Linked DNA regions of Homo sapiens: regions 2 and 3 are each linked to region 1. The links come from fine-mapping of genetic effects on gene expression. A gene starts in region 1. Each other region holds a variant in brackets. All regions are shown on one strand. Distances are between the middles of the regions.

Region 1 (10,735 bases):
AGGTCACACTGTTATTAAAAGGTGAAGCCAGCACATGGTACCAGCACTGGGGCCACCCAGACCCCCAAGACCACCCCAGGCAGCTGGGATTTCAAACAGACTGTCCCATTGTCAAACATTTGGTTTGAAATAAAAGGACTCTTAGTATAACTCTGGGCCAGAGGGGAAGAAGGGGTGAGGGCAGCTAGCGTGGCACCCTGGGTCCAACTCCAACCCCTTCTGTTGCCAGCAATGTGACCAAATACTTACACCTCCCAGCAAGTTTCTGTTTCTTTAATGTAAATGTAAGCCCTACCCCATGGGACAGAGAGTTCAGTCCTCACGGGTCCTCTCTCCCTTTCAGCTTCTTTAAATTACAAAAATCAACACTACCAAATGCATCCTCACCTGGAAATGAGGCTGCCTCGTTTACATACACATATTACATAAAAATCACATGTTCATATCACATAGAAAGTGCTCTGGAAATGGCCACATGCATAATTCGTGTTCTTACTCAAGTCAGCCCGTCGATGGTCTCTGCAAAGCCCCTACCTGATGCAAGGAGAGCCCGTGGACAAGGGCTGCCTGGAGTGCTGTTGGAGAATAAATAAGACAAGTAAGACAAGCAAGAGGGGTGGGAAGGGACTGACCTGTCAAACCTTTTCAACAAACATTTGCTGATCACCTCCTCTATGCCAGATCCTGCCTGAGGCCTCTTTTATCTCATTTAATTCTCACAACAACCCTAGGAGGTTGCTCTCATCGACCCCATTCCCCCAGAAAAGGATAGGAAGATCTTCAGAGAGGTCGGGCGTGCCTTTGGTGATTCAGTAGCATGCTCATTCCAGAAGCCCACCCAGGGCCTTGGAGTTGCCAGCAGGATGCTGGCCAAGCCCTTGGCCCAGGTCCCCCTCCTGAGAATTTCCCAAAGGGATCCTTCCATTCAGGACATCATAAGGGTGATGACAGAGTCAGTCGACAAAGACTGACACCCCCTTGGGGAGGGAAACACTCCAGTTTGCTAGCAGGTGAACACAAGCAAAGACTTATAGGAAAGTACTCATAGAGTCAAAGTATGAGCATAGCAAAGGTCAGGGCTTAATGCCCAATGCCCCCTCACTAGGGCATTGGTTTAAGTCTTTAGGTAAGAGGGACAGCTGGCTGGTCAGTTCCGGTCCTCTTCATCCTTTGCCATCCTGGTCCTGGGGGTCAGTGAGTGGCTGCTTTGTATGTTGGTGGGATCCAGGAAACCGTGCTCCTAGTGCCCTCTGCAATTGATCAAAGGTTAGAGAACCTGCTTAAAAGCCCAAGCCTAGATCATAATTACAGTTTAAGTTCATTAATTACAATTAAAGCTGATTAGTTAAAATTTAAAATTGTCTTTTAATTGCTAGTGGGTCTGGGGGTGGTGCAAGGATGGTGGTGGGGTTGGGAGATTCTGCCCGCCACGTTGGTTATGAAATGATAGCAGGAGGGTTGAAGTACCGTGAGGTGTAGATGGGCAGCAGGCCCCTTGGCAGCAGCTCAGCATGGAGAGGAGGTGGTCCTTGAAGACAAGGAGGTGGACGGATGATGTCATCCCTGAGGAGAGACCCTATGGCATGGGAGGGGGGCAGGTTAGAAACCATCTTCGTGACCTCTAACGGCCAGCACCGGAACAGCAGAGAGCAAAAGGGGGCAGGCAGAGGGAAAGGCAGGGAGGAGTGGCAAAGGGGAGGACTGAGGAAGGCAGTAGGGAGGGGCTGGGAGGGAAGAGGGAGGGGTATGGAGGGAGGAAGGAGGGGGGCAGGGAGAGGGGAGGAGAGAAGGGGAGGGGAAAAGAGAGATGAGGAAAATGAGGGGGGAAGAGGGAGGAGGGAAGAGGAAAGAGGGAGGAGGGAGAAGAAAAATAGGAGGGGGAGGAGGGACGAGGAAATGAGAAAGGGTGGAGGGAGAGGAGAAATGGGAGGTGGAGGAGAGGAGTGGGAGGGGGTAAGGATGATTTGACTGACAGGTCACAAGTGTTAGCTGTGTGCGTGTGCGCAACTCAAAACCCAAGGTAGCGGGGCTGGCACACACCGCTAGGGGGCGCGCGGCCCGCACCCGTAACCCAGGAGTGCAGCAGCCACCTGCGGCGCCCCGGCCCGCGCCCGGCGGGCCTGGATGGACAGGGGGTGCCCAACAGGTCTCAGGCTAGGAAGGGCTCCACAGCCCACCCCAGGCCACCGCGCCAGGTCGCTACGCCCCCTGGACGCCTCTCCAGCCACCACCAGCCAGAGCCCACCTGTGGCTGCGGCGCAGCGCCTCCCGCCCGCACCAGGCGCCTCCTGCGCCCCCAGCCACCGGGCCCCAGCCCCAGAGGAAGGTGGGCCACCCAGCGGACCTGCGCCAGGCCCCTCTGGAGCGCCGCTCCGCCTGCTACAGGGAAAAGCAGAAATCCCGACTCCCACCTTCGTCAATCCAATTAAACACACGTTCACTAAAGTCAGAAAGACCCAGTCCTCCAGGCACCGCTGTCACGCATGTGGGTGGTCTCGGAACGAGAGACAGAACCTGTGACATCGCTGGAAAGTAACGCAAAGGGGGCCACCACGCCGCTCCCCGCCTTCGCCCCCAGGCATCAACATCACGCCTCCAAAGTCGTGCCTCCCTCCTTCGCCACAACAACAATTTCTAGCCCCCGCACGATGGCCCCTCACTGACCTTGTCACAGCCTCTCTCTCCATCCTGCTCAAATGAGCCACACCTTCCTAAGACCCCCGAAACCAAAAACCACTGGAAATCAACTAACGTGCCTCTGTGCGCCTCCACAACACCCGAAGCCACGGCGCAAAGGCCGACCCCGGCCTCTGCGGCCACTCCGCAGTGAATCCGGGGGGTCTCAAAACTGTTCCCTCTTGGGTAAACGAATCCAGGATCCTCCAGTAGATCCCGCGCCCGACCCCCTCCATCAGGAGAACAAAGGCCACCTCCCCTCCCCACCCCGCCCCCCAAAATTCCGCAGTGCCGCCAGCGCCCTCTCGCGGCCAGCCAGGAAACCTTCCAGAAACCTGCCACGTAGCCACCCGCCTGCGCCCCCACCAGGCCCGCCGGCCCAGGGTGGGAGGGGGCGGCCTGGGGGGGCTTGACTCTGACAAAGGAAATGGCAAAAGGCGATTTGACCAAAAGTCCAAGACTGCAACATGTCAGGATTTTCGAGCGACCACCACGCAACGCTCTGAAGACCCCCGCGGCACCCCATCCCCAGCTCCCAGCGTCCAGACCCCAGCAACACACCCCCTTTTCTGCATTTCTCTCCTCCCTCTTCCCAGACCCAAGGACACGGCCTTCTCTCCTCCCCAACCCACCCCCTGCATCTATTCTCCCAGTGCCCCCAATCCCACGACCCCCCTTCGGCAAGGACTGATCCTAGGGGGCTACTGGCAGGTTTGCACTTGGGCGCCATCTCTCTCCACTGTGAAAGTGGCTGATCAGGGCAGAACCAGATGATATCGGGTAGAAATTTTACTCCACATTTTGCCTGGGGTCCACACTGCACTAAACCTGTGTATTTGGATTCGGAAAACCTCGCGAAGAGGAACCTCCACTCCTCCCGCCCACGATCCACCAAAAACCTGGCCAACAGCTGGCGAGGCAAATATGCCCGGGAGACCCTTCTATTCGGGTGCTTCCCCCCCTAATTCATGGGGCACGCAGAAGGCATCGCCGCCATATCTCCCACTATTAACGCGATTCTAGAGGCGGCTTCTAATACAGGAAATCCGGGGTTCGCCCCCCAGTGACTGCCGTATACCCGAATCCAAGAGGAGTTCCATCTGATTCCTCCCGCTCCTCTGAACTGAAGTCCCTACCACCCAGCCCACCCTTAAGGACTGGACCCTCCAGAGAGGAGCCCTGACTTCCCCCCAGGGAAATGTGCCTCAAGATTTTCTTTCTGACAAATTTTGTTGCGGACGCTCGGGGACCAGGCGAAGTGGCCGCCTCCAGCAGCAGGACCCAGGATCAGGCAGGCTCTCGGCATGTCCAGGAGGACAGAGCCCATCCCAGAAGCGGATGCCGTCTTCCTTTTGCACATCCTTTGCGGCAAGGATGGCCAACCACTCACCGGGTGAGGGATCCTCTCGTGGGCGCCCCAGCTCTCCTGAGGAGCCGCCGCCAAGGCCAGCGAGCCAAGGCGCGCTCCCTCTCTGCTCTCCGCCGTCTGCGCTAGGGGCTGGCTGGGTGGGGTTTATATGGAGGCGCAGAAGGGGTGGTCTCTGACGTCAGCGCATTCTGCTGCAATGCGCTCATTTCTCTAAAAGTGATTGGCCGGAAAAATGAGCCCCCCAGATTCTATGACAAATTGCTCTAGCCGCACCCAGATTGCAGCAAAGAAGGGAGGAAAAAATTCTGCCGCAGTGCCCCTGGCCGCCATGACCAACACCCTGTGGTCGCGGGTGCTTTTTCCCTGCGTGAGCCCGGCTCGCCAGGCAGGGTGAATTCAGGCACAATGTGTGGGGGGAATCGCCCCGATGGCTGGCCGTCCTCAGGCGGCCGATGGCCAAGGTGGGGCTGTCGGGGCGCAGATCCCACACCTGGCGGTTTCGGAACATCCATCGGAGGATGCGGGCTTAGCGAAAGAAAATCATGCTTTCTCTTATTGTTCAGGAAAATAAAATGCCCGGGCGACATAACTGGTTCCCAGATGTAAGCCAGAGGCTGTCACCCCCTCCCAGCCCACCCGTGCGTTTCTGACTGGTTCTCTTTGACATGGGAGACAGAGCTCCGCGTCTCCGAGTCAGAAAACCCTGGCTGTGGAGTCCCGGGCTCTGCCGCTTACAACTCATGTTCGCGGAACCCGCTATGCCCCTTCCTCTTCCACTGGGTCCGCTTCCTCCACCTTAACCAGGGGTACCCCCCACCACACACACCAGGGTTGTAATAAGAATCCAGACAGGAGCCGTGCCCTCTAAGGAAAGTACTTTTAGAGGGCGGACTGTGTCCCATGTGGAGATGCCTGAGCTACCCCTCAAAGTTGGGGTGATCCCCACACACATGCCCTTTGAAAGAGCCCCAGCGCCCCGAAAAACAGGCAGCGACACATGTTGCGCCGAGCCCTGCCGCGGCCTCGGCTCCGGAGCTGGCACATGGGAGTTAATCCCTAACAGGTGGGAGCCCTCGGCAGCTCTGCCCGGCTCTGAGTGGCAGAGCGTGCAGGGCCGTCAATCAAATGTCCTCTCGCAAAGGTCAAAATGCTGTTGAAAGGGACCGAGGATCTATCTTAGGGTGACAGGTGGGTGGCAGCCAGGAGGACAAGGATGGAGTGCTCGGTGACAGAAAGCAGGTGAGGATGAGCAAGGGGCCCCAAAGAGGACAGCAGAGAGGCCCCGCCGAGGGCATCAAGTCAGAATCGCTCCCCCGCACTTCTTTGGGGGGTTTAAGCGGCGTCAGAGGGAGCCCCCCATGCCCAACGATCCCACAAGGTGACTGTAAAGCAGACGGGAGATTCCAGGGCTGAAAAGAAGGGAGAAAGGCTATTTCTACGTCCACAGCTAATGACTAGGGAGGTGAACATTGACCGTCAGGTCACTAGAGGCGCCGAGCCTTGGGACGGCGTGTGGGGGGCTCGTTTTTTCATAAACAGGCGCACTGTTGGGGAGATAGAGACGTGGGACGTTGGGGTCCTCATGGGGCGCTGCTTTAATATGTCAGGTAACACGAAGGAGAAAGAAAACACCCCCTTTACAGCCTGTGGAGCTTGCCAGGAGCCCCAGGGACTAGAGCCCCGGAAGCAGGCCTTGCACAGCAGAAACGCCCGCACCAGCCACAGACGTCAAGAACGCTTCAAAAAATCATGGCTCCGAGCACCCGCGTCAACAGGAGAACGTTTATTAGCCACAGTATTAATAGCTAGGAAACAGCCAGAGCTGGCCGGGGCCAATCAGCAACCAGGAGCCCCTGTCGTCAGGCCCCCACGGCCAATCAGACGCCGGCAGGCCCGGTTGCTAGCCTCTCGGGGGCAGAGGCGAGGGGCACGCATTGACAAGGGGCTCGCATTCACCCGCCGCGCGTGGGAACTGTGGTGGCCGCCAGAGAGCATCCGCAGCCACGCACCCGGGGGCCCGGGAGGCTGTCGTAGACACAGTGCCAGCCCGCGTCAGCCCTGCAGCCCCACAAGGGCATGAGTTGACGTTCCGGTGGGAGCCCCAGGCCTCAGGTGGGATGCTCCTGGAGCCCCTAGAAGGAGAAACTTCCAGACACCTAATGTCCAGTCTCTCCTGTCAGGGCCTGGCGCCCCTGCGGGAAGTTGAGCCTCCCAGTGAGAAGCCAGCCTCTGCCCTATTCTGGGCCCCCTGGCTCTTGAGCCTGCTCCTTCGAGGTTCACAGTAAACCCCACTCTCCTATTTCAGGGCCTTACTGACAGCCCAAGGAAAAAGACCGTGGAAATTACGGGTTTCCTACAAAGCACCACGGGTTTGAATCCCGGCTCTGCTCCCTCCGCGCTGGGAGGCTGAGGTCCAGGCCCTCCCTCTCTGTGGGCCCCTACTTCCTCATCTGGAAAAAGGAAAGACTTGGACAAGATGGTCCCTAAGGAGCCTTCCAGTCCTACTTTGCTTGATTTGAATGTATACATCAGGCGAGTCAAATGTCTTCCAGAACATTCTGCATGACAGTAATTAGTATCAGGTGTATCCTGCAGTCCATGTGGTTACTTCATCATGCTGCTTTTCTTTCCATTGTATTTTATTTTAAACAGAACTCCATGGCAACATGTTTACCCTTCTGGCTTCCTAAAAGAAAGAAAGAAAATGATGAGGGGGGGGAGCAGGAATGCGAGGCAAAGAGAGAAAGAAAAGACTGCTGCAAACTAATCTCCACTGAACATGGTTTAACCACAATTTAAAAAAAAAATCCATATGTTTAAATGTTTTTGTTGGCTTTTCTGGAGCTCAGAACCTAACTTTTTAAATATTTATTGGTCCAAAGCAATGGAAGAAATTCTTGAAGGAGCCAAACCTATAGTAATATTTGGATCTGAACTATTTCTCAATCTGAGCAATGCTATACATGCCTTCCTCCCTCAAAAAGGCCATTCAAGGGCTCAGATTTGTATCTATAGGGGAAAACAGACAAGGAAATCCAGGTTTGAGAAATGGAGCACTTTCTCTCTGTGCATGCTGAAACCCAACTCTCCTGAAATCCTGGAGGCGAGCCAGTGTCCCAGACGCATGGCTTAGCTTGCTGCCTTTTTTTTTTTTTTCTCAGATCTAACTCAAAGCACACATTTTTCTTCTTTTTTTAATTCATACTTGAGAACCCTCAAAAGCCATGTGAGCAGCCTCCTATCCACATGTACATACTTATGGGCAAGGGGACAAACCTCCTAAGAGCCAGCCAGGAAATGAAGACAAGGTCCTCCTATACCCATCTCCCAGGCATGGGCAAATATACTCTCTTCTCAAAAAGCATACTCTGAACTTTTACAAACAGCAAACCCCAAGTGCCTACCCCTCTAAGCCGACGTCCCAGTTTTCCCCGTACCCTTGAAATTTAGCATGCACCAGAGATCTCTTGAGTTCCTCTTCTGCACTCCCCCCAGGGGGCTGCCGGGATAGGGAGGCTGCTTTGACTTCTTCCTATATAAGCTGCCACTGCAGTCCCAATCCCCAGCTCTAGTGCCAGCCTCTGGCCCTTCAAGCCTCTGAACATCACTGAACCCCCTCCCATTCTGCCATAGACCTCAGCTCAAGTCAGAGAAGCAGTTGAGCGCATGGGCGGTCTTCCATGGGGCTGAGTTTTTCCTTCTCGTGGGACAAGGGGAAGCCTGTCATTGTCAAATACAATGTCTGCCTCCCATAAGAGGTGAGGCTTGACATCAAGTAGTCAAGGATTTGGAGGAAATGATCAAACACACCAGGCCTATCTTCTGGGATCTTGAAATTGACAGCAGCTCTTCTAGAAAACACACCGACCCCAGCTCCCAGTGCCGGGAACACTCTGCTCCCCTTAAAACCAGAGTTCTGGGCACAGCCCCAACCTTGCATGGAAGAGTTTGCCAAATTGTAGATACTAAAAGACAAATAAAGTTCAACGCCTTTCACAGACGGCCAAGGATGAAGTTTAATTCCAGGTAGACTGCTGGGTTTCAAGGCAGCGCATCTGTATATTTGAGTTAGCTAGACTTCCAGCCATTCCCCGTTGACTAACAGTAACCCAAGAGTAAATGTTCAACCACAGAGTTGCCCTTTTCCTCATCAGCCTCTGGAGGAGCGTGGTATGTGGACAGGCAGGGGACATTGCTCTTTGGGACTACTTTTTATAATAACTAGTGCCAATGAAAAAGAGCTGGAGGGTAATGCCCCCAAATGGTACCATTAGTTGTGCTGGATGGATAGATTCTGAGTGAATTTTCTTCTTCCTTTCTACTTTTATGAATTCCTTTACTGGCATGTATTCCTCTTATAGTGTGTGTGTGTTTGTGTGTTTTAATGCTGCAGTCCAAAGCCAGGCACAGTGGCACATGCCTATAGTCGTAGCTACTCAGAAGGCTGAAGCGGGGAGGATCACTTGAGCCTAGGAGTTCAAGGCCAGCCTGGGTGACATAATAAGACCCCAACTGTTAAAAAAAAAAATTCGTTTTAATGTAACGGTACAAGAAAAGTGACCATTTTAGCCTCTTCTTTATTGACCTCAATTTAAAAATCTTTTCCTGTTAAGTAAATAAAAATCAAGAGACCCAGGATTCATGTCCTGCATAGCATAAGTCCCCATTCCTGGACAGAGGCATTCATGCATGAGTGATAGCTGTGGGGTGGGCACAGAGGTGGGTGCCAGTGGCAGTCACCTAGCTGCGCCCAATCTTTGGAAGGACTCTCCTGAACCTGCCACAGAGGTGAACAAATTCCAAGCTGGTAAAAGCAAAAAAAGTGCACTTCAATGATTTCATTCCTACTGGGGGGACCTAGAGAAATCCATTTCCGAGAAGACCAAGCAGGCCAAGAACGGGGTCTTGGTGAAGCAGACCACTGCCATGGGTTGGATTTTAGAAGTCACATCCTGACACTAGGAAAAGACAGCCACATTGCCCACCCCACCCCCACCCGGGGCCCCCTGGCTTTGGGTGTGGGCCAGCCCCAGATTCAAGCAAGGGGTTTTCTTGGCCCCACTCCATGGAAATATTTCCTTCGGTGGAGCAAAGAACTGCTCCATTCAACTGCCTGCGGCTAGGGAGGGGGTGGCTTTTGCTGTGTTGACAGAGAACTGCAGAGGCCTGGGGAGGGGCCCCAGAGGAGAAACTGTGTTCCAGGTAGAACAGGACTGGAAAGTTTGCTCTTTTTTTCTTTTTTTTTAACTAAAAGATTGCTGACAGTTGAAAAACTCCCACCCCACCCAAGAGGCTCCTAGAGGAGGCATTTGTACTAGGTTTCAACAAGGACTAGAAACTTCTTAAGTCTTAATGTCAAAGGGAAGGGGGCCGAGGCTGGGCACACTTTCAATTTAAACATTGAGGGTCTGGATGGTTCCAGAGCACACAGTTGGCCTCCCTGAGCCAAGCCTGGTGATACCTCTGTCTCAGAGCTAACCCAGAAGCCACCAGCTCCTGGGGGAGCCAAGGGTGCGTAGGAGACGCACTGTGATTAGGGGCCCGTGCACATAGAGGCAGCGGTCAGAGGTTCCAGAGGGCACACAATCTTCCCTCGTTGAGCTTAAGTTTGCTGATGTCCATGTCGCAGCCCACGCCCAGAGGAGGGTACCAGCAAAGGTAGGAATCTCCTTGAACTTTCTTCAAAAAGCCCAAATCCATGTGACTCTTGCTTCGTAGAGCTGCTCAGAAGCTCATGAGGGCTCGGGGGAAAGTGACAATCCCTGGGAGATAGGATGATGAGTTCCACCTACCACGGCAGTCTACCACCACTGCCACCGCTGCCTGCCACCGCTGCCTACCACCACTGCCTACCACCACTGCTGCCACCACTGCCACTGCTGCCACCACTGCCACTGCTGCCTACCACCACTGCCTGCCACCGCTGCCTACCACTGCTGCCTGGCACCGCTGCCTACCACCACTGCCTACCACTGCTGCCTTCCACCGCTGCCTGGCACCACTGCCTACCACCGCTGCCCTCCACTGCTGCCTGCCACCGCTGCCTACCACTGCCTGCCACCACTGCCACCGCTGCCTATCACCGCTGCCTGCCACCACTGCTGCCACCGCTGCCTGCCACCGCTGCCTGCCACTGCTGCCCTCCACTGCTGCCACCACTGCTGCCTACCACTGCCTGCCACCAATGCCACCGCTGCCTATCACCGCTGCCTGCCACCACTGCCTACCGCATCAGTCTACTACCGCTGCCTGCCACCGCTGCCTGCCACCGCTGCCTGCCACCGCTGTCTGACGCTGAAAGGAGATGAGAATCAAACAGAGGGCAGCACATGGCAGTGCAGGGTGAGTGCCACTCCATGCAGTGGCCTGTGCTGCCCAGAGTCTACCGAGCCACACGTTGTGCACCTGGCGGGATGGCTGACCACCCCATAAACACAATGTCACAAATGCTGATTGCAGCCTTTCTTTCAAACCATTGAGTGCAGCTTGCAGGGTGACCGGCAGTCTTGCCTGGTGATTGAAGGTTTGGGCCCCAACATCAGACTGCAGGTGCTAGTCCACTTGCTACCTGTGTGGTCTTGGGTTGGTTGCTTAACCTCTCTGAACCTCATTGTCATGATCTGTACAATGGGGACAAAATACCTTCTTCAGTTGAGAAGATTAAATTGGGGAAAAATGTGTGCTGTACTT
Region 2 (10,735 bases), 140 kb after region 1:
TACTAAGGAGGCTAAGGCAGGAGAATCAGTTGAACCCCGGAAGGCGGAGGTTGCGGTGAGCCGAGATCGCCCCATTGTGCTCCAGCCTGGGCAACAACAACGAAACTCCATCAAAAAAAAGAAAGAAGGAAAGAAGGAAAGAAGGAAAGAAAGAAAGAAGGAAGGAAGGAAAGAAAGAAAGAAAAAGAAAGAAAGAAAGAAAGAAAGAAAGAAAGAAAGAAAGAAAGAAAGAGAGAGAGAGAGAGAAAGGAAGGAAGGAAGGAAGGAAGGAAGGAAGGAAGGAAGGAAGGAAGGAAGGAAGGAAGGAAAGGGAGGGGATGAAAGGGGAGGGGAGGGGAGGGGAGGGGAGGGGAAGGGAAGGGAAGGAAGGAAAGAAAGAAAAGAAGTCATCTCCTCAAGCTTGAGGCTCTGCTCTAACTCAGGGTGGGGAACTAAGCTGGGAAGGCTGAGGGCAGTGACCAGCCCGGTGGGGTGATCCCACCTTCTGTACCTAGCAGTTGTGTGACCTCAGATGGATGATTTAACCTCTCTGCACTGTTGGGCTACCTGTCTGTAAAAGGGGAAAATAATCCTTCCCCTCATGTACCTCTCTGTGAAGCCCACCACCCCGTGTGGGAGGAGGTCCTCATCCTGGTTCAGCAGGGCTTGGGTCCCCATTCCGCCAAATGTGTGTGTTGTGCCGTGGGTGCGCCCTGCTGTCCGGTGAGGTTCAGTCATTTGCCGAGGGCATGCGACCTGTGAGCACTAAGCAAGCCAAGCCTGGGAGTCTCAGTTTTCCCGCAATCCCCCAACCACTTCCCCAGGTGAGCAAACCAAAGGCGTAAACCGAGGCAGAGCCACCTTCCTGGCAGAAGGAAAGGTCTAGAACAAGGAATAAAATCTCCATCACGCAGTTTTTAAGATTCACTGAACCTTCTTGCAGCAAAAGCAGCTTACTTTCAAATTAGTCAGCCAGAGTGTGAGTCATTCCTTTGCAAACTCTTGTGCAGAGAATGCTAATGTGGGCTGCCCTGTGGATGGGTCCCTGCAGAGGCGCTCACCAGGGACCCTCGCCTAGGGCCAGAAGCACCCCCTCCCTCCAGGGACACTGCCCTCACCCCGCAAACACAGGGGCTCAGGCCTTGGGTCCCCCTCGCCTGCTCTGCCTACCCGCCGTCCAGCCTCTGCCTGCCTCCAGCAACAGGCCAATTAATCCCCCCAACCTGGAGCAGCCGGGGCCACAGCAGCCCACGCTGGCCCACGCTGACAGGAGAGAAGCGACCCAAGCTGAGGCCTTGCTGCAGACGCCCAAGGCCACAGGTCTGCTTTTCACCAGGAAGTGGAGGGCTGGTGAAGGTCGGTGTTACGGTAAGGGGAGTGGACGGGGGCACCCGGGGGGCTGTACCTCCTCCCCCACCCAAGTCCTGCAGAGGCAACTGGAAGCCCATACATGCCCACAGGCACTCATCCACAACCATTTGCTAACCTGCACTGCCCTGACTGAAGCTCCGGCCACACTCCAATTAGACTGGGCTGGGGGTGGGGGGCCAGGAAGGGAGAGTTAGCCCCAAAGTGGAGGAGAAGTTCCGGGAGGGAGGTAGTGAGGGAGGGCTTCCTGGAGGAGAGGAGGAGTAAGCGGAGCTTCAGGAGGAGGGAGGTAGCCAGGAAGCAGAGGGTGAGGTGGGGACGATGGGGCCATCCCAGCACAGGGAACAGGCATGCCAAGGCCGGAGTGAGGGGCCACATGCACGGCTGCCACATGACTGGAGGGAGGCAGGCCTGGTGGAGAGGCTGGAATGGGGGACCAAGGACTGTATCCCGAGGCTGGCAGGCCCCAGCTGTGAGCAGGGCAGTGGCATGGTCAGGGTGGAAGTCCAGACAGCTTGCCTTGGTTCAGAGTGAACGTGAGATGAGGACCGGAGCTTGGTCGCCGAGGGACCTGGGGCACAGTAGGGCCCCTGTGGGTAGGATGTGACCTCAACTGGGATCGTGGCTGAGGGATGGAGAGATGATGACGTTGGCTGAGGGATGGAGAGATGATGACGGTGGCTGAGGGATGGAGAGATGATGACGGTGGCTGAGGGGTGGAGAGATGATGACGGTGGCTGAGGGATGGAGAGATGATGACGGTGGCTGAGGGATGGAGAGATGATGACGGTGGCTGAGGACATGCTGGGGGCCAAGTCGATGGTGCTGTGTGAACCAGAGAAAGAGGGGCACATCTCCAGGGGTCCTGCTGGCCCCAGGCCTGGAGAGGGTCCCATGGAGCCAGGGATGTGGCACCTGGGAAGGTCCCAGAGCTAGCCACAGAGGCAGCCCGGGAGCTGACCATGTCGAGGCCACAGGAAGGCCACTGGAAACACTGTCCACCTGCCTGGCGCTGGCCTGAAAGAGAGAGAGCCACTTCATTCCCTGCATTTGACAACGGACAGATCCTAACTGACCACGGGCCCCCGCCTCGCCCTCCCTGCACGCAATCCTCAAACACGCATCTGCACCTGCCGCCTCCTGGCCTCTCCACCCACCCACTCTGCATGGGCTCCCATCATGGGGGCAACATGAGTCCTCTGAGACCATGCTAGCAGCGAGCCGAGGGCACCACAGGAATCCCAGGCCTGGTCTGGGCCAGTAAGGTTTCTGCCATTGGCACCAAGGCAGGCCTTTACCTGGACTCTCTGAAGATACCGGGAGAGCCCCGTAAAACAGAGATGGTCTCTCCTGCCTCGCTCCCTTGCGTCCTAGGCAGCCTAACCAGGAGCGGCCCACAGAGAGGTCATTTCTCCCCTGTGGCAAATCTGTCTCTCCAGGAATTAAAAACATCCCAAATGTCAGATCCAGCAGGAAGGCCCCAGGATGGAGCATTTGTTTGAGATCCCCTTTGCTCTGGGGCTTCAGAACAATGACCGCTCCTAGGCAACCAGGGAGAGAGGAAGAGGCCTGGGATCCCGGGACCAGGAAGAGGGGCTCCCTCTGGAGGCTCTCCCTCCTCCCCTGTGCAAGGAGTTTGTAGCCCTGGGGAGGGTGGTGGAGAGAGAGTGGGATGGTGGGCGCGGTCAGATGGGAGTGAGCCCTGGGCAGCCCCCAGGCCCCTTCAGCTGAGTGGCTCTTTCCTGCTGGGAGGATTCCCCTCTTCCCCTCCCCCTCCTGCCTCTCCAGCCCCCAACCCACTCCTGGTGAAGCTGCCTGGGACCCTGAAGGGACTGTGGCAGCAGAGGGGGCTGAGGTGGAGGGGGCTGAGGTGGAGAGGCTGAGGTGGAGAGGAGGCTGAGGTGGAGGGGGCTGAGGTGGAGGGGGCTGCGGTGGAGAGGGGGCTGCGGTGGAGAGGGGGCTGTGGTGGAGGGGGCTGAGGTGGAGGGGGCTGAGGTGGAGGGGGCTGAGGTGGAGGGGGGGCTGCGGTGGAGAGGGGGCTGTGGTGGAGAGGGGGCTGAGGTGGAGGAGGCTGAGGTGGAGGGGGCTGAGGTGGAGGGGCTGAGGTGGAGGGGGCTGAGGTGGAGGGGCTGAGGTGGAGGGGGCTGAGGTGGAGGGGGCTGAGGTGGAGAGGGGGCTGAGGTGGAGGGGGCTGAGGTGGAGGGGGCTGTGGTGGAGGGGGCTGAGGTGGAGGGGGCTGAGGTGGAGAGGGGGCTGTGGTGGAGAGGGGGCTGAGGTGGAGGGGGCTGAGGTGGAGGGGCTGAGGTGGAGGGGGCTGAGGTGGAGGGGCTGAGGTGGAGGGGGCTGAGGTGGAGAGGGGGCTGAGGTGGAGGGGGCTGAGGTGGAGAGGGGTCTGTGGTGGAGGGGGCTGAGGTGGAGGGGGCTGCGGTGGAGGGGGCTGCGGTGGAGGGGCTGAGGTGGAGGGGGCTGCGGTGGAGGGGGCTGCGGTGGAGGGGCTGAGGTGGAGGGGGCTGAGGTGGAGAGGGGGCTGAGGTGGAGGGGGCTGAGGTGGAGGGGGCTGCGGTGGAGGGGGCTGAGGTGGAGAGGGGGCTGAGGTGGAGGGGGCTGCGGTGGAGGGGGCTGCGGTGGAGGGGGCTGAGGTGGAGAGGAGGCTGAGGTGGAGGGGGCTGAGGTGGAGGGGGCTGAGGTGGAGGGGGCTGAGGTGGAGGGGGCTGAGGTGGAGGGGGCTGAGGTGGAGAGGGGGCTGAGGTGGAGGGGGCTGCGGTGGAGGGGGCTGCGGTGGAGGGGGCTGAGGTGGAGAGGAGGCTGAGGTGGAGGGGGCTGAGGTGGAGGGGGCTGAGGTGGAGGGGGCTGAGGTGGAGGGGGCTGTGGTGGAGGGGGCTGAGGTGGAGGGGGCTGAGGTGGAGAGGGGGCTGTGGTGGAGAGGGGGCTGAGGTGGAGGGGGCTGCGGTGGAGGGGGCTGCGGTGGAGGGGACTGAGGTGGAGGGGGCTGAGGTGGAGGGGGCTGTGGTGGAGGGGGCTGTGGTGGAGGGGGCTGCGGTGGAGGGGGCTGAGGTGGAGGGGGCTGAGGTGGAGGGGTAGCAGGGTTTGGTTCCCTCGAGGTCCTGGGAGGGCGCAAAAAGTAACAGAGGACACCTGGCCGAGAAGGAAATGTGAGCCAACCCCGCAAGTCTGAGCACAGATTGGGTCCAGCTTTCTTGTTGTTGTTGTTGTTCTATCTTTAAAGAAAGGATGAGAGCCTTAAGCATTAAAGCCCATTCTGATAAAAGTAGGGAAGCACCCGTCTGACCCCACGCCCCACCCAGCCGCCCCCAGTTCTGTTGCGGCAGCCTGAGGCACGGCCGGATTTGATCTCTGCCCGCTCCCCTGTCTTGTTTCATTAGCTGACTCTGTGTTTGAGGGTTTTATTGTTTTTGAGTTTGTTTGTTGTTTTTTTTTCAAACAGGGTCTCTCTCTGCCACACAGGCTGGAGTGCAGTGGTGCAATCATAGCTCACTGAAACCTTGAATTCCTGGGCTCAATTGATCCTCCCACCTCAGCCTCCAGAGTAGCTGGGACTACAGGTCCACCATGCCCAGCTAATTTTTTTTTTTTTTTTTTTTTTTTTTTGCTAGTGATGGTCTCTTACTATGTTGCCCAGACTGACCTTGAGCTCCCAGGCTCAAGCAATCCTGACTCGGCCTCCCAAAGTTCTGGGATTCCAGGTGTGAGCCACCACGCCCAGCCTGTTGGAGGTTTTTTAAGCATGCACAAATACACACACACACAGAGGTCTCACCCCTGAAGCTTCCACTTCCAAGTGATGAAACTGACAGATTTTAGCTACCGTGAGAGTAACCAGGTAAAATTCCCTAGAGGAAACTTCTGGGGACAGGGTCAACATGAGTGGCATTTTCACCAGGGGGCTTCGGCGCCATACTGGTCTGATTTTCCCTTCTCTATGGAGGGGTTCCTGTTGCCCCGTCTCTGGCATCTATTAC[G/C]GGTTTAGCTGTCCTGGTGTTACCCAGGGCAGAGGCCACCTCCGATTTTCAGGGTCAAACTCACACCGCGTGGAACACCTTCAGGAAAATGATTTTTCCCTTCTTTGGAGGTGGTTTTCTTAGAAGCATATCTCCAGGAGGAGGAGGACTGCTTAACAAGGGGCATCTGGCCTTTGATAACTCTTCCTACGTGCTTGCCTATTCATTTCCAAAGAGGCTATATCATTTTCAAGTCCTCTAATGCATTGGTGACAATTTCATCACAGCACTGGGGTGTCATTACGTGCAAAATGATCTGATATCTCAGTACCGGTACTTCCCCAGAAAACAGAGAGCCGAGGTCTGTTTTGTTTCTTCCCTTCATCTCTGGAACCACCTTTTCACTGTTATTTTTATTCAATTATGCTACATAAACGTGCTTATTTCTATGATTCCTGCCCTAACACATGGCACTTTCATGCGGTTCAACCCAAAACTAAAGATGTAAGTGGCAGGCTACAACAGGCTATTGAGAGAGCAAAGACCAAATGGCCATTTCTCCTTCCCTCTGGCAGGAAATCCTGAGATGACTTTTCAACATGACATTCAATTTTAGGAAATTAATTCCATCCTCTGACCTGCTTGTTCTTCTAAGGCCGGCGTCAGCCAAACAGCAAGACAGTCAGGTCTCTGAAGCGTCTGATATTGCAGGGGCCAAAGGGGCTGCACGACTCTGGTGCATCCCATAATTGTCTGCTTTTGTCCTGCTGGGCGGACGTCAGGGAGCCTTACCTGGCTTTCTAACTTGGAGCATGTCCCCAGAACCTTTATCTTCTGCAGCCTCTTCCCTAGCTCAGACATGGCCGGCCCCTTCCCTGGAGCTCTGGGCTGGAGGCCAGGAGCCCTGGGCTTTCTTCCTTTAAGAGAGGGCTCTGACCAACAAGCGTGAGGGTGAGGAAGGAAGGAAGAGAAGAAGAGTGACATGCAGACTTCTGATGAGATCTTTCGTAATAGCTTGACAGCAAAGGACGGTTATTGTGAACCATACTGATTTAATGAACTCTTAATGAAATACAAATCTTGATTTTATTTTTTTCTTGAGATGGAGTTTCACTCTTGTTGCCCAGGTTGGAGTGCAATGGCACGATCTTGGCTCACTGCAACCTCCACCTCCCGGGTTCAAGCGATTCTTCTGCCTCAGCCTCCTGAGTAGCTGGGATTACAGGCATGTACCACCACGCCCGGCTAATTTTGTATTTTTAGCAGGGGTGGGGTTTCACCATGTTGGTCAGGCTGGTCTCGAACTCCCGACCTCAGGTGATCCGCCCGCCTCGGCCTCCCAAAGTGCTGGGATTACAGGCGTGAACCACCGCACCCAGCCTAAATCTTGATTTTTTAATTGTAGTAAAAGAATCTTTACCATCTTCACCATTTTTAAGTGTACATTTCAGTGGTATTAAGTACATTTCCACTGGTGTGCAATCATCACCACTGTCTGTCTCCAGAACAACTTTCGTCCTGCAAAACTGAAACCCCAAAAGATTAAACACTAACTCCCTATTCCCTGTCCCCCAGCCCTGGCAGCCTCCATCCTACTTTCTGTCTCTATGATTTTGACTCCTTCACATAAAGGGAATCATATTTAACTTTTTGTGACAGGCTTATTTCACCCAACATAATGTCCTCAAGTTCACCCATGTTGTAGCCTGGGCCAGCATTTCCTTCCTTTTCAGGGCTGAATAGTATTCCATCGTGTGGACTGACCACATTTTGTTTCTCCATCCACCCTTCAGTGGCCACTCAGCTGTGTCCACCTTCTGGCTACTGTGTGTGATGCTGCTATGATCATGTGTGCACAGATAGGAAGCATATCTTCAGAGTGTGTGTGGAGTTGGGAGGGTCCAGCTTCTCTTCAACCCTTGGGAGAGGCTTCCAGAGGAGAAACGGAGCTGCCATGGGCAATGTGGGCAGAGTTAGGAGGAGGTGGGCTCTGGCTCTCCCTGTTCCTTCCCTCTGGTCCTGGAAGCCTCTCTTTGAGGCCAGCTGAAGGAAGACCCTTGCAAAGGGAGAGACTGGCCTCTGTGTCCAGTTGGAAGACCCTGGCAGCGTCAACATGCTCCAGGTCCATATGGCCCCTCCTTCCCATAGTCAGGCAGCAGAAGACCCTTTCATCAGGATTCAGGGGGCGCGGGCCTCCAGGCTCACTTTCACGTAGCCACAGCCCCACTTACAGATGGAAAACCAAAGCCGTGGTCCTACTGGAGGCTGGCCCGCCCCTGCCAGCCCCTCTGTGGTTCCCAGCCCCTCCAGCACGTTGAGCAGAGACAGCTGCCAAGAGACTTGGGTAACAGATGATTCCTCAGACCTGGGCACTTTTCATGTGATTGAATGCACACTTACAGAAGGGCCAGCTCTGAGTCTGCCAAGGGGCAGGCCCATACTTCAACTCCCCAAGGCTCGTCCAGACTGAGTGCTAAGTCTCCATCAGAAGCTATGAGACTCTGGCCACCTACTTCGGGGACAGAAAAACCTGCCTGTGGGGACCTTTGGCGTCCAGTCCTCTCCACAACCCGGAGCACACGGCACGTTCCCATTGGCGCTTTCACAGTGCAGATGAGCAAGCCGAGGCCCAGACAGCTTGCACCATGATGAGCAGGGTATGGGGAATGAACTCAGCTCCGGGGGGCAGCAGCGTCCCCTCCACAACCACAGCTGCCTCCCCAGGAGTCCATCAAAGTCCTGCAGAGCCCCCGGAGCCCCCCACAGACAATCCCTGGCAGGGGACGGAGTGAACCTTCTCTCCTTGGAGTGCCCCTGTGAGCATCAGGGTTACGGGGCAGGAGGCAGATCCCCGCCCACCCTCCCCTCAGCTCAGCCTGTCCTCCCCATCTTCTCATAGCTGCTCACACCCAGTGCCACTGCCCCCCGCCAGCTTCTACCCCCACTCCCAAGGATGCCAAGGACCCAGGTTACCAGGCCGATGACACCCCTCCCGGCTCCTGTCGTGGCCACCCCAGGCAGCCGACTGGTCCCTCCTGCTGAAACACCTCTTCCTGTGGCTTTGGGACCCGAGTCCCCCTCCTCTTTGAAGACCCCTTCCCAGACTTTCTCCAAAGGCCTGGCTCTTGCCCTTGCCTCCTAAAGCTGCCACTCTGAGGGCCAGTCCTGGCTCCATGCCCTCCCCTCCTGCCATGCTACTGGTGGCCTCATCCTCCTACCACTGAAGACCCCATGTGCCCAAGGCTCTTACGTGCCCAAATCCCAGCTCATACCCAGAGGCCCACCCCAGAATCACAAACCCAACGTCCCTCTCTCCTGAAAGCATCAGCCTCCACGTGTGTGTCCCCCATCTCCCACCTTCTTGAAAATTCTGCCACAACCCACGCACTCCTTCAGCCCACTGCCCCACCCATGCCCCCTCGCTTCTGCTCCAGGCACTCTCCACATCAGCCCCTCCGGTCCCCAGCGGGCTGCTCAGGGACGTGTTTGCATCATGGACCCTTCTGCCTGGAGCCTGCTGTTTCCTGCAGCCGGGGTGCCCCCTTGCTACCCTGGCCCACGTTCGGACGAGAAGCCAGATGCGGACTCCGTGTTGCTCCCTCTCAGGTCCCAGTCAGAGCCTGTGATATCACTGTCCAATCACATGCCGTGTCCCCCGGGGGCCCTCTGGGATACAGAAGTGTCAGTTATCTCTGTGTCCCTAATGGTGGGACAGGAAGGGCATTCAGGCCCACGCAAAGGCCTGCGCTCAGCAGCAGGAGTGCAGAGACAGCTCACTGGCAGCAGGAGGGCGTGGGGCTGCTGGGGCACGGTAGCTGGGGCTGAGGGCCTCTTCCGGTCCCTCGAGGGAGGAGCATAGTCTTTATCCAGGGGGCCACAGGGGCATGGTCACGTCTGAAGCCTTAGGAAAGGTCTGAGTAGAGGCAGGAAGTGGCCTCTGGCCGAGATCGCCTTTGCCTGGCCTCAAGGCCATCCGCTTTCCCACAAGACTCTTGGCCATGGTTGTTCAGGCCACTGTGAGCTTTTTTATGAGGCTGGAGGTTTGTAAAACTTATTAGTTGGTGGAAACTTGCGGGCTGCCGGCCAGCCCTCTGTGGTGGTGGCAGAACCCTGCCCGCAGGACACCCACGTGGCCTGTGACAATGGGGGGAGGCGGAGGGAAGGGGACCCCAGTTCAGGGGTGGTCATCCTCGGCTTCCCACAGCCAGGCGTTCTCAGCCGGTACTGGAGGGAGGGGCTGTCGCCTCGCACCCACCGGTCCTCAGGACACTCGAACCAGGGTTGTGACCACTTGGGAGCCTCTGGGTTGGAGATCAGGCTGGTGGCAGTGCAGGAAGGGAGGACCATCCCCAAACAGCGTGGCCTTTACCACAAAGGAGCCACCCTGGGTTGTCTCCTGGACACGGGTTCAAATCCCTGGTCTGCAGCCACCTAGCCATGTGGCTTGGGACAACAGCAGTAGAATTCCTGGTAAACACCCACTGGTCCCAGGCTCTGAGCTGAGCTCTCACATGAACCAAGTCAGTTGTCAACAGCCTGGAAGGGGACCACCATTATCATCTCCTCTCTAAGTCACATTCTCCTCTGCAAGAGAAGAAGAGTGTGGCGCCCACTTTCTCATGTCACAAGAGAGACACTCGTCAGCACCTGGTGCACATTAGCCGCCTGTGGACACAAGCTCTTTCCTTTCCCACCACAAGGCCCTCCTGGAGCTGGCCGCCTCCTCTGCCTTGCTGGGGAGTTCCCTCAGCAGGAAGGAATGTGCAGGCCCAGCGATCTCTGGAAACACCCGGAGTCTGCAGAACGTGCTGGACGCGGTCAGCTGTGTGAGACCTTGGCCCCCAGGCCTCTGGATGCACTGGATTCCCTGGAACAGTTAGCAGGACACAGGGCAAAGGCCTTTCTCCTTCTGTCGGTAATCAAGACCATCTGAGGACCCACGGGGCGCTCACGTTCTACCTTCCCTGGCTTGGCTGAGGGTTGAGAGGGCCTCGGGAAGGGTGGAGGGAGGAGGGAGAATGGACATAGGCCCATCTTTCGGCCTAGATGGAGGAACCGTGTGCTGGCTGGGCAGGCTGCTGGCAGAGGTCAGGAGGGCTCTTCCCTGAGCCCTGCCATCCATGAACTGTGTAACTTTGATCCAGGCCTTGTCCCTCTGGGCCTCAGTTTCCCCAAGCTGGATGTGTCGTCCCCCTGCTTCATTCACAATTACCACCAGAAGGACCAACACCACCCTGCAAGACTCAATGGGGTGATGGATCAATCAGAAAAAAAAACAACAAAAAAAAACACAGATCGCCTAGGGCTTAATTAACAGGAGCATGGTATTCATAGCTGGGGAGGTGAGAGTCGGCTGCAGACTGTACCTAGGCACTAACACTCAGTTCTGGGAGAAAATGACAACTGATGCCTGTTCAGGAGAGGGCACT
Region 3 (10,735 bases), 120 kb after region 1:
GCATGATAGCTGATCTTTGGAAGCCCTAATGCTTGTCGCAGTTCAGTTTTTGCCACTGTTCAAACATTGAGGGCCCCCACAAGAGTCACAGCAGCCCTCCCCCTGGCTCCTTCTGAGAAAGGCAGTGGCAGCTGGTGGCTGTGGGCTCTGTGGCCCACCCTTCCCTATGGACCTGTTGACTCTAGAGTCTTCTTGGAGATCCGGGCACAGCAGGTCTGCAGGGCGCATTTCCAGGCAGGGTACCGAAGGCTCCTCCCACAGGGCTCCCCGACTCCACCACCCTCCTCACAACGGTAGCATGAAGGACAAGGACGGCACCTCCCTGCCTCCAAGGCCTAGGCGACCTTTCTGTGACTCACCTGAAATGCCATCTCCCCTGTCCACCAATGGCGAGCCCACCCCATGCCGAGTGCCACCTCCTCCTGGAGGGCTTCCCTGAACACCCCTGCCAGGCAGAGCCGTCCACCACGATCCTTGCTGCTGTCAGGCCCCAAGGGCTTCTGAGGCTGGTGGCTGGGTGATTGGGTGTGGCTAACCACACACGCTTCCCAGGGACTGGAAGCTCCTGGAGGGGTGGAGTGGAGTGAGGAGGGGCCCCACCTCCACCCTGCCAGGCCTTTTCAATACCCAGGGGTGTGAGACCTGGTCACGCGCTGGTGCTCGGCACAGGCTGAGCAGTGCTGGCACAGCTGCAAGGGGCCACCCTGTCTCCCTCCACATGGCTGACGGGTTGTCTGCCAGCTGGGCCACCGACAGGACGTGGGCAGGGATTCCCTGGGGAGGAGCCACCACGGCTTCCTCGTGGTTCAGGGCGCCTGTTTCGGCGGCTCCGATGGCCTGCATGTCCCTGTTGCCAGTATTTTTAACTTGGCCCAGCTTTTAATAAACCCTTCATGAGTGGAGAGCAGTAAACAATGATTTGAAGACTTGACTAATTAAAACACCACTCTGTGGTTGCAGAGGGAAGCCGGCTCCATCCCGAGGGAGGGCCCTTCCCCCGGGGGTCACTAGCAGGCTCCACGCTGCAAGCCAAGCGCAGCAACGCATCCAGACCTGGAAACGAGGGAATCCATGATGCAGCATGGAGGAGCTGCAGCAGGGACCCCACACGCACCTCCCCGGAGCCTGGCCCCATCCCAGACCCTGCCACCTCCTCCAGGAAGTCCCCCTCACAGATGTGCAGCACTGTGCTCCTTGTGGTGCCTGGGAGCAGGCCAGGGTCCTTTCCTGCCCACCCCCAGGGACAGCTGCTCAGCCTGGATCTCCACCTGTCCCTTGCTCCGTCCTCTCTCTCCTGCTTCCACATGCCCAGCTCCACTTTCTCTCTCTCCTGCTCCTGTACCGAGGGCACTGCGGCCATTCATCCGGGGCCCTGGGAGGGGTCAGCAGGCTCTCCCTCTGCATCTCCCTCCGTCTCCCCATCAGTGCTGTCTTTACTCCATGATCTTGGTCCCCCTTCGGAGCCCCAGCATGAACCTCTCCATCGGCTCCTCATCCGGGAGAAGGTCGTGAGAAAATCATGCCCCAGGCCTGCCTTCTGCCCTCACTTCTCCGCAACCCCCCAGGCTCCATCCAGCCCCTCCTGGACCTGCACTGTTCCTCCTGCCTCTGCCCTGGGAGGGTCCCTGGAGGCGGCTGGGTGCTCCCGAGGATGAGTGCTCCTCTCCTCAGCAGGAGTCTGTGGGGGAGGAGCTGCAGAGTATTCCACAGGGCAAGCAGTAGATGCTTAATAAATATCAGAGAGACTCCACACACACACACACACACACACACACACACACACAGGAGGGGAGGTGGGCAGACCTCCTTGGACAGGGTTGGGTTTTGCCAGAAACCAGAGGAGATGATTATCCTTTACATGTGACCTCAGAGATCCCCCAACCCTAAAAATACCTACTCCCTGTCCCACCGACCCCCATGCCAAGCCTCAGTCCAAGTCAGCGGTGGGAAACCCAGTACCCAGTCCTGCCCACGCCACCTGGCTGGTGCCTTTGATTGAAGGGGTGTCTTGAACTTCTCCCGACTGCGGTGAGCACATTTGTAAGATGGGGTTAAGGACTCTTGCCCTGAGAAGAACCCCCTCAGAGCTCTGGCATGGCCGTGGTGAGCTGGGGCTGGAAGGAGAGCCTGGGAGCAGAGCAGCGACACCTCGGTTATCACCATTTGTCCCAGTCGTGGTTATTACAAGAATTAAGAACGTTCCCGCTGGCCTTTAAGGTCATCAAGCCTCTCTCAAGGGTGGAGGTGCCTCCCTGCTGGGTGGCCCTGGGGACCCAGACCACCTACTTGGGGGTGGCCAGGCGATGAGTGGCCAGTTGGACCACCTGTGGCTATCCGGAGCCCCTCCCCCTCCACCCAATTGTCCTGAGGCCTGCACGGTTCTACCTGTGATAGGGAACACTGCCTCGAAGCAAGCCCTTGGCGGCATTCCCAGGTTCCACCTCTGCCTGCCTCCTCCCCAGCCCTCCTGGCTTGTCAAGACAGAAGCTGGCAGGAGGGGTTTGCAAACATGAATCATGGCATTTATTCCTATGGTCTCTGGCCCCGACTTTGTAAAAACACCTGCAGGTGACTCTTCCTCCAGAAAAGGGAGGCCGCTGGTTTTTTCTTCCCCCAGCTTTGCCGGGAAAGAGGCAACAGGGAGTGCTGGAGGGCGGACCGTGTCATCGAGACAGGCACATTTTTCGGGGTGTGTAGTTACCAACTAATTAGCAAGTCTGGAGACCACGACTGCGGAACAAGTGACACGAGGGCCCTGGAGGGCCCAGATGCTGTTGCCTACCGGCACATTGCCTCTGTGGCCCTGAGGCAGGGGACGAAGTCTGGGGACAGCCCACCGGGAACCCATGGGCCAGCGGGGAGCAGGCCTGTGGGACACCCAGATGCTCCGGCCCACTGCTGGGGACATCACTGCACCTCCCTCCCGCCCAGGCCTCGGTTTCCCCCTCTGGCTCTGGAGGTGATTATCACAAACCTAAAGGCGGCCTGGATCCTGGTGCCTGCTCCCCTCCCACAACCCAGTTCTAACACCTGGGTCACATATGCCCACTCCCTGTCTGCCCAAGCCAAGCGTCCTGCAGTGAGGACCTCCGTCCCCTCTCCATGTGCTCTCTCAGTCTCAGAGCCCTCCTGCCTCTGGGGCTGATCACTTCCCAATTTCCCACTCCCCTCTAGGCCTCGAGGCCTCAGTTCCTATTGTTCCCTCTACCCAAGGAGCTTCCTCAGCCCTGTCACTTGTCAAAACACAAGCCTGTCCTCCAGGGCCGTCTGGGTACCGAGAGGTCCAGGCCACCTCTTTCTCCTCAGGAAGGCAGAGGCCCCTTGGCACGCTCACAGGAAGAGCGGCAGCTCAAGGCCGGAACACGATTACCAAACCCGAGACTTCTCCCTGGGGCCCCAGCCGGCCTGGGACCTTGAGGACAGATTTCAGGCAGGCATGCCTTCCTTCAGTACTGCCCCTGGGGAGCGAGCAGGCTTCTTGCTGCTGGAGGAAGCTGGGATTTAGTGAAAGGAGGCTAATGTGGAAGAGCAGACGGACAGATGGCCTGTGGGCCCAGGGCACACTGCCTACGCCTCTCTGAGCTTCGGAGTGGTGCCTGTAGCATGGGAATTATATAGGACCAGCTTCCTAGGTCCACCAGGCCCTAGTAAGTGCCCGGTGGAAGCTAGCAGGCACAGGAGGAAGGACGGGACAGCACATCTGACCAAAAGCCCCAGGTCCAAGCACAGCTGCCCAGAGCCGGACAGAGCCCAGGCAGGTCCCAGGGGGCCTCTCCTTCCAGCCGAGCTGCAGGAGTGCTAAGGCGAACCAGGCAGGGCCTGAGAGCCCTTGGAAGGCTTCCCAGTGGAGGTGACCTTGGGGATGGGCCTTGAAGGGTACACATGAGTTTGCCAAATGCAGGGGAGGGGGAGGCCTTCCCGGCAGTAGGACAAGCTTGAGCCAGGGAAGGTTAGGGCGCCAGTGTGCCTGGCTATTCTGGGAGACGAGTCCAAGGCCCGGCAGAGTGAGGGGAGCAGCTGTCCCTGAGGAGGCCGAAGGTCGGCAGGGCTGCCCAGCTGGGGTCCTGAATGCCAGGCCGCTGGGCAATGTCTTTGGGGAGCCTCAGACAGGCTCTGAGAAGACGAAAGACAAGGTCAGAGCTTTAAAAAGCTGCAGTGCGGTCACTCTGGCGGCCACGACAGAAGCAAGAACACAAGACAGTGACGACCACACAGAGGTCATGGCTAGGCCAAGTGGAGCAGCAAGGAAGGCAGAAATGGGGGGCTGGGGACGTGGAGGAGGGGCAGGAGGAAGAAAGCCATGAGGAGAAGCCAGGAGGAGAAGCTCCCCAAAGCCTCACTCCCCTAGGCTCTTGTATAAAACAGGGAAAATTACGCTTGGAATATCTCCTACATCGTGAGGTTAACAAAAAGGAGTTGCAGAACAGTGTGTGTAAAACGAACTCATGTATGTAAAGTGAAAAAGAATATATACAAGATCCCCTTTCCTATTGATCTGTTTGCACATGCCTAGACGCTTCCGGGGATCACAGGAGAAACTGACTGGCGCTGGGCTTTGGGAGTGGCTGGGGAACCCCAACGGGAGGACTACCTGCTTTGCACTTCAAAAGAGAGGGCCATCTATTTTATAATTGAAACCACTTTTAACATAAAAAGAAACTGGCGGGGGCGCAGCGGTTCACGCATGTAATCCCAGCACTTTGGGAGGCCGAGGCAGGTGGATCCCCTGAGGTCAGGAGTTTGAGACCAGCCTGGCCAACATGAGGAAACCCCGTCTCTACTAAAAACCCAAAAATTATCCACACATGGTGGCCGGCACCTGTAATCCCAGCTACTTGGGATATTGAGGCAGGAGAATCGCTTGAACCCGGGAGGCGGAGGTTGCAGTGAGTTAAGATTGCACCACTGCACTCCAACCTGGGTGAAAGAGAGAGACTCCATCTCAAAAATAAATAAATTAATTAATTAAAATAAAATAAAATAAATTATAAAACGAACCGAAACAGGCAAACGGTTAGAGAAGGCCAGCATTTGTCTCAGGGGAAAGCACAGCCAGAGGGGATCGGGGAGGCTTCGCGGGGCTGGAAGGTTCCAGAAGGCTTGACTTT[C/G]CCCACCTGGTGGTCTACCCGGCCCGCAGTCCCAGCCCCATGTCCCCCCCACCCAGGGGCAGGACTCCCGCCCTGCGCGGCCCCAGCTCCCGCTCTCCGTGGCGAGCCCGCCGCGCCCCCTGCCGGCGCGCGTTGGGGAGGAGGGGCGGGACGCAGAGGCTGCGGCTGGGCTCCCGGGCAGGCGCCGGGCTTTCTCCCTGGGTTGTGTATGTTTCTTAAAAGAATGATACGTGTGGCAAAAAAAAGATAAGAGGGGAGCCATTATTAATGAGAACAGGTGAGGGGAGGATATTCATGATCGTTTCGAGCCTAATGAAGCCTGCCGAAGGTTCCCTCCGGAATGATGGATTCCGCGGGGCCGGGGCGCTCCCATCACTCTTGTCCTCGGAGCCGACTGTTCTCCCGGCTGCCTCCGCACAGCCCGCTCCGGAGGACAGGAGCGAGGCTGATAACAAATTTTGGGAACATAGAATTTCACACCTCATCGCACAGGCATTAAGACGACAATACAGCGGATGACTTCCTCCCGCTGGCCCGCCCCCTCAGCAAGGAAGGCCAGGCCAGGGGAGGCCTGGGGGCCGGCGGGGCCCCAGGGAGGAGGGTTGGGCTGGGGGGGCGCCCAGGGCTCGCAGAGCCCCTCAATTGTCCTCAGGCCCGGCAAGTGGAGGCGGGAGCGGTGACAGGGACAACGGGGATCTCTGTCCCACCCATCACTGGGATCGCAATTGCGTGGAGAGGGAAGGCCCCAGAGCCCACGGAGCCGCTCTCCCCGTCCAGGCCCCCGTGAGGCCCACTGCAGCCTAGCTCCTGCTCCTGACGTCGGTTCCCAGCAAGTTCAGCCAGGTGGCTGGCTGTTCTCACCCCTCCCGGGAGCTGCACAGACAGCTGCGTTAGACAGAACGCAGGCCACAGGGCCGGGCAGTGAAACTTCCCATCACCCGAGGCCGAGCCGGCCAAACGGCTCCCCTGGCGTCATAACGGCCAAGGCCGGGCCACCCTGGCTGGAGGGCGCACGGGAGGGGCGCAACGTGACGTTTGGGAGTACAGAGCCAGGGAGAGGGGGCCAAGTCAGGGGCCGCCGCACAGTATAGGACGTGAGGAAGGAGGAGCCCGCTGCCCCGCTCCCCTACCTCAGCGTCGGGTCTACCCTGCCCACCTTCACCATGTCACAGCAAGATGCGCCCCCTTTGGCCCAGCCCCCAGGTGACACACGGCCCGGAACTTTGACCCGCCTTGTGCAAATGTGAGCCTATTACCAGCACTGCCCTTGTTCCCAACATTTGGGGCACAGAGGGGTCCTTTTCTGTCCCCAGAGCCATCTTGAGTAGAATGAGGAGAAGAGGCGTTTCCAGGCCCTCCTGGCCCAGTTGCTCGCTGGCCCTCAGCTGCCAGGAAGGCGGACATTTGAGAAGGAGCAGGGAGGGTGTGGGGCAGGAGAGGGGTGGTGTCCCAGCCAAGGGCAGCAGGAGCCACCCAGAGGCCTTGGCCGGTAACTGACGCCAGCCCTCACCTGGAGGGCCAGGTGAGGCCAACTCTGCCCCTCCCACCTCCTGTCTATGCCCAGCAGGTCCATGGCCGTCAGAGGAAGCCCAGGGTGGTATCGCATTCGCTTCCCCTGGCTGCCCATCTGAACCCAAAGCCCCTTGAGGGCGGTGAGCAACGCCTGCTGGCTAAGGGGTGCCCCTGAGCAGGGGGTGAAGACACCCCGCCAAGCTGCTGGTCTTTCAAGTGGGATTTTAAGGCCGGGTAGAATTTTTAAAAATGAAAGGTAAATGGAGTTGTTTTTCTTTCTGAAAACAATAGATGTTATTTAAAGAAAATGTAGGGGAGGCTGAAAAATCCAAATAATAAATCATCCATCGTTCCTCTGCATAGGAAACATTGACATGGAGGTATTTCCTTCCAGTCTTTTTTCTGTTCATTTCCCTTCAGTTTTGTTTTACATGCCAGAGATCATGCTGTCTCTGTGATCTTGTTTCTTGTTGGTTCTTATACAGGAGACATTCCCTATGTTTATCTAAATTCAGAAGAGACAAAGTATAAATGGCTGCATAACAGTTCGTGGAGTGGTTGGTACCACAGCTGGCTGCTAATCTTTTACTTGGGATATTTAGGATTTAAAATTTTACTTTTGATTAGGAGAAGCAGGTCTGTCATGGTGTCATTGTTGTCTAACGATTTTCCCTTATTTCAGGTTAATCGCTTTTCAACAGTTTTTTTTTGAGACGGCGTCTCGCTGTGTCGCCCATGCTAGAGTGCAGCGGCACAATCTCGGCTCACTGCAAGCTCCGCCTCCCGGGTTCATACCATCCTCCTGCCTCAGCCTCCTGAGTAGCTAGGACTACAGGCGCCCACCACCACGCCTGGCTAATTTTTTGTATTTTTAGTAGAGACTGGGTTTCACTGTGTTAGCCAGGATGGTCTCGATCTCCTGACCTTGTGATCCGCCCGCCTCGGCCTCCCAAAGTGCTGGGACTACAGGCGTGAGCCACTGCACCTGGCCCTTCAACAGTTTTTTAAAAGTAGAATCTCTGTTTCTAAGATAATAGAAATCTTACAACAGAAAAAAGGGATTTTGTTTGTTAAACATAAGTAATATGTATTTATTTTAGAAAACTTAGAGACAAGTATAAAGAGAAAAACACAAGTTGCCAATAAACTCATGAATATGGGTATATTTATGATCCAGATGTGAGTGTATAAGAGTCAGTGTCTGTGTGTGTGTGTCAGTGAGTGTGTATGAGGGTGTGTGTCAGTGTGTCAGTGTGTCAGTGTGTGTATGAGAGTGTGCGTGTGTCAGTGACTGTGTGTATGAGTGTGAGTGTATGTCATTGTGCGAGTGTGTACATGAGGGTGTGAGTGTGTGTGTCAGTGACTGTGTCTGAGGTTATGTGTGACAGTGACTGACTGTATGAGGGTGTGTGTCATTGTGTGTGTGAGGGTGTGAATGTGTGTGTCAGTGTGTGAGGGTGTGAGAGTGTAGGTGTGTCAGTGTGTGTGTCAGTGAGTGTGTGAGGGTGTGAGAGTGTAGGTGTGTCGGTGTGTGTGTCAGTGAGTGTGTGAGGGTGTGAGAGTGCGTGTGTGTGAGGGTGTGAGTGTGTGTCAGTGTGTGAGGGTGTGAGAGAGTGTGTGTCCGTGTGTGTATCAGTGTGTGCACACACGCATCTATGGAGACAGGAAACTGTCTCAAGCTTCATTCGCCAACATTTCTTAAGTGCTCCCCGGGACCCAGCCGCCCTCTGTGTGCCCGAAAGTCGACCCTGCCCTCTTTTACTTCTGGCCCGGAAGCAGCTCTCCTTCCCCAAGCCTGACAGTGCCTCGTGGTTTGGAGGTGGGGGGACACGCCGACTGCAGCCGTGAGAGCTGCTGTTGCCCCCAAAGCTGGAGGTCACCTGGGCCCCGGTCCCTACTGACACTGTGTCTCCACACCCTGCTCCCCCAAGCCCCATCACCTTCACAGGCCCAGGAGGAGAGCATCCCCCTCAGTGCATCCGTGGCTCAGGCCAGAAACCCTGGAGGCCTCCGGAGCACTCTCCTTCTCCCGCAGGACTTGCTGATTTTATCTTCAAAACGTGTTTGGAATCCCACCACTTTGTCTCTCCATGCCACCACCCTCGAGGCCCACAGCTGCTCTAGCCTGGATCGTGGCGACCATCTCGCAGCTGGCCGCCCTGCTTCTCCTGTGCAGGGCAAGCCTTTCCAAGCCAGGCCACCTCACGCCTCACCATGGGGCCTTTGCCATGGAGCCTCCCTCTTCCTTATCTTGCCCCCGAGCCCCTGGCTGTTGCCTGACGCCCCTTCTCTCGTCGCTCACTCTCTGGTGCCTCCCTAGTAGCCACACTGGCCCCCTTGCTGCAGCCCCGAGCCCGGTGCACAGCCTGCTCAGTCCTCTAGCCCCCTTGCTGCTGGCCCGAGCCCGGTGCACAGCCTGCTCAGTCCTCTGGCCCCCTTGCTGCAGCCCCGAGCCCGGTGTACAGCCTGCTCAGTCCTCTGGCCCCCTTGCTGCAGCCCCGAGCCCAGTGCACAGCCTGCTCAGTCCTCTGGCCCCCTTGCTGCAGCCCCGAGCCCGGTGCACAGCCTGCTCAGTCCTCTGGCCCCCTTGCTGCAGCCCCGAGCCCGGTGCACAGCCTGCTCAGTCCTCTCCAGTGGCCCGGGGCTCACTCCTTCACCTCCTTCAGGTCTTGGTCAAATTCACCTTCTCAGCGAGGTCTTCTACTGCCCTCCCCTCCCGCCAGCCCATCCCTGTATCCCTATCCCCATTCCCGCTTTATTTTTCTTCAAGCACTTGTAGCTTATAAAATGATTTAGGGATTTATTTATTAATAGCACTTGACCGCTAATAAAGCCTCTGCACTAGTCGATGCCCGTAACCCTCTATTAGCGGGCATAGCAGTGGGTTGTCCTCACTTCCCAGGAAGGAGGGAGGGATCCGGCTCGGACTGGGTGCCCGCCATGTGCCAGGTCCTCTCTTGGTCCCCATTTTGTTTGGTTTGGCTTTGTTTTAAAACAGTCTCGCTCTGTCACCTAGGCTGGAGTGCAGTGGCATGACGAAGGCTCACTGCAGCCTCAACTTCCTGGGCTTGAGTGACCCCCAAGCCTCAGGCTCTGGAGGAGCTGGGACCACAGGCAAGCACCACCACGCCCACTAAGGTTTTCGTTTTTTGTAGAGATGGGGTCTCTCTTTGTTGTCCAAGCTGGTCCATTTTGTATAAGAAGAAAGAGATTCTGTCACTGAGTCTGTTTCCCAGAGACTCTGTAGTAGCTGGGGGCATTCCAGAAGGCCAGGGTAGCCACACCCCAATCAGCCCTGCGAATGCTATTTCAAAACCTCCTCCTTCCCTACCCTGGTATAGGTGCCAGGAACTGTGTGGGCATCTGAGAGCCAGGGACTGGCAGGAAACTGTTATGTACCTCCAGCTCCCTGAGGTCCCCACCTCGCCTTTTTAAACAGACTCGACCCAACCGTGTGGCTTCACCCTGTGGTGAGGAAAGCCCTGCCACGGACATTGGCCCGGACCCCTGAAATCCATCCAGACCAAGTACCTCCATCACCACACCCAGCCAGCCCTCTGCATCTCCAGTCCACTTTGGAATTTTTAGCTCCTCAGCCGGGTCAGTGCTCACGTGGGTTGGATTCACTCACTTGGACCAAGACTGGCTCTGCCTCTAGTTGGCACCACCTGCCCTCCACCTGTCTCACATCTGGGCTCCAGGGTGGACATGTGCTCGCCACTCCTGCTCCCATTGTCCCTTGGACCAGCTCAGGTGGCTCAATACCCACCAGATGCCATCAGAAGAGGGTGACTGGAGGGGGCACCCACATGGGACAGGAGCCGCAATGTCAGGGCCCCCACTGGGATTCACAGTGCCCACTCCACATCCTGTCCCTTCTCTCTGGTGAGGTCTGGCTCTGGAAAACTGTTGAGGGTCCTACTTCTCCTCTTGGTGAGCCACACAGAATCCTTTCCGCCCTTTGTCAACCCAGCACCAGACTCACACCCTCGATGTTGACAGTGGCTGCCACCTCCACCAGCAGCAGTGAACATTTATTGCACACCTGAACCTTGCGCCAGGCACTGTGCTGTGGACTGTACCTGTATTACCATATTTTATCTCACAACCACTCC

The links.
Region 2: its variant is fine-mapped to the expression of MEG3 in whole blood (INTERVAL, PIP 0.90).
Region 3: its variant is fine-mapped to the expression of MEG3 in blood mononuclear cells (TOPMed, PIP 0.92).

The regions. Positions count from the first base shown.
Region 1 is chr14:100,819,549-100,830,283 of GRCh38, reverse strand. MEG3 (maternally expressed 3) reads right to left here and starts at 4,166. Exons shown (of 10, transcript NR_190993.1): 1 at 4,067-4,166; 2 at 1,468-1,576; 3 at 535-1,250. RefSeq lists an enhancer at 5,866-6,566.
Region 2 is chr14:100,679,268-100,690,002 of GRCh38, reverse strand. It overlaps LOC105370668 (a long non-coding RNA gene), which reads right to left and starts at 3,069. Exons shown (of 3, transcript XR_001750887.2): 1 at 2,646-3,069; 2 at 2,263-2,364; 3 at 2,087-2,172. LOC124903385 (a long non-coding RNA gene) reads right to left here and starts at 672. Exons shown (of 3, transcript XR_007064339.1): 1 at 587-672. RefSeq lists enhancers at 250-1,065, 8,886-9,479, 10,074-10,667. The variant G/C (reference allele first, on the strand shown) is at 5,328.
Region 3 is chr14:100,704,372-100,715,106 of GRCh38, reverse strand. LOC105370669 (a long non-coding RNA gene) reads right to left here and starts at 6,040. Exons shown (of 2, transcript XR_944211.1): 1 at 5,970-6,040; 2 at 5,356-5,553. RefSeq lists enhancers at 280-791, 792-1,303. The variant C/G (reference allele first, on the strand shown) is at 5,109.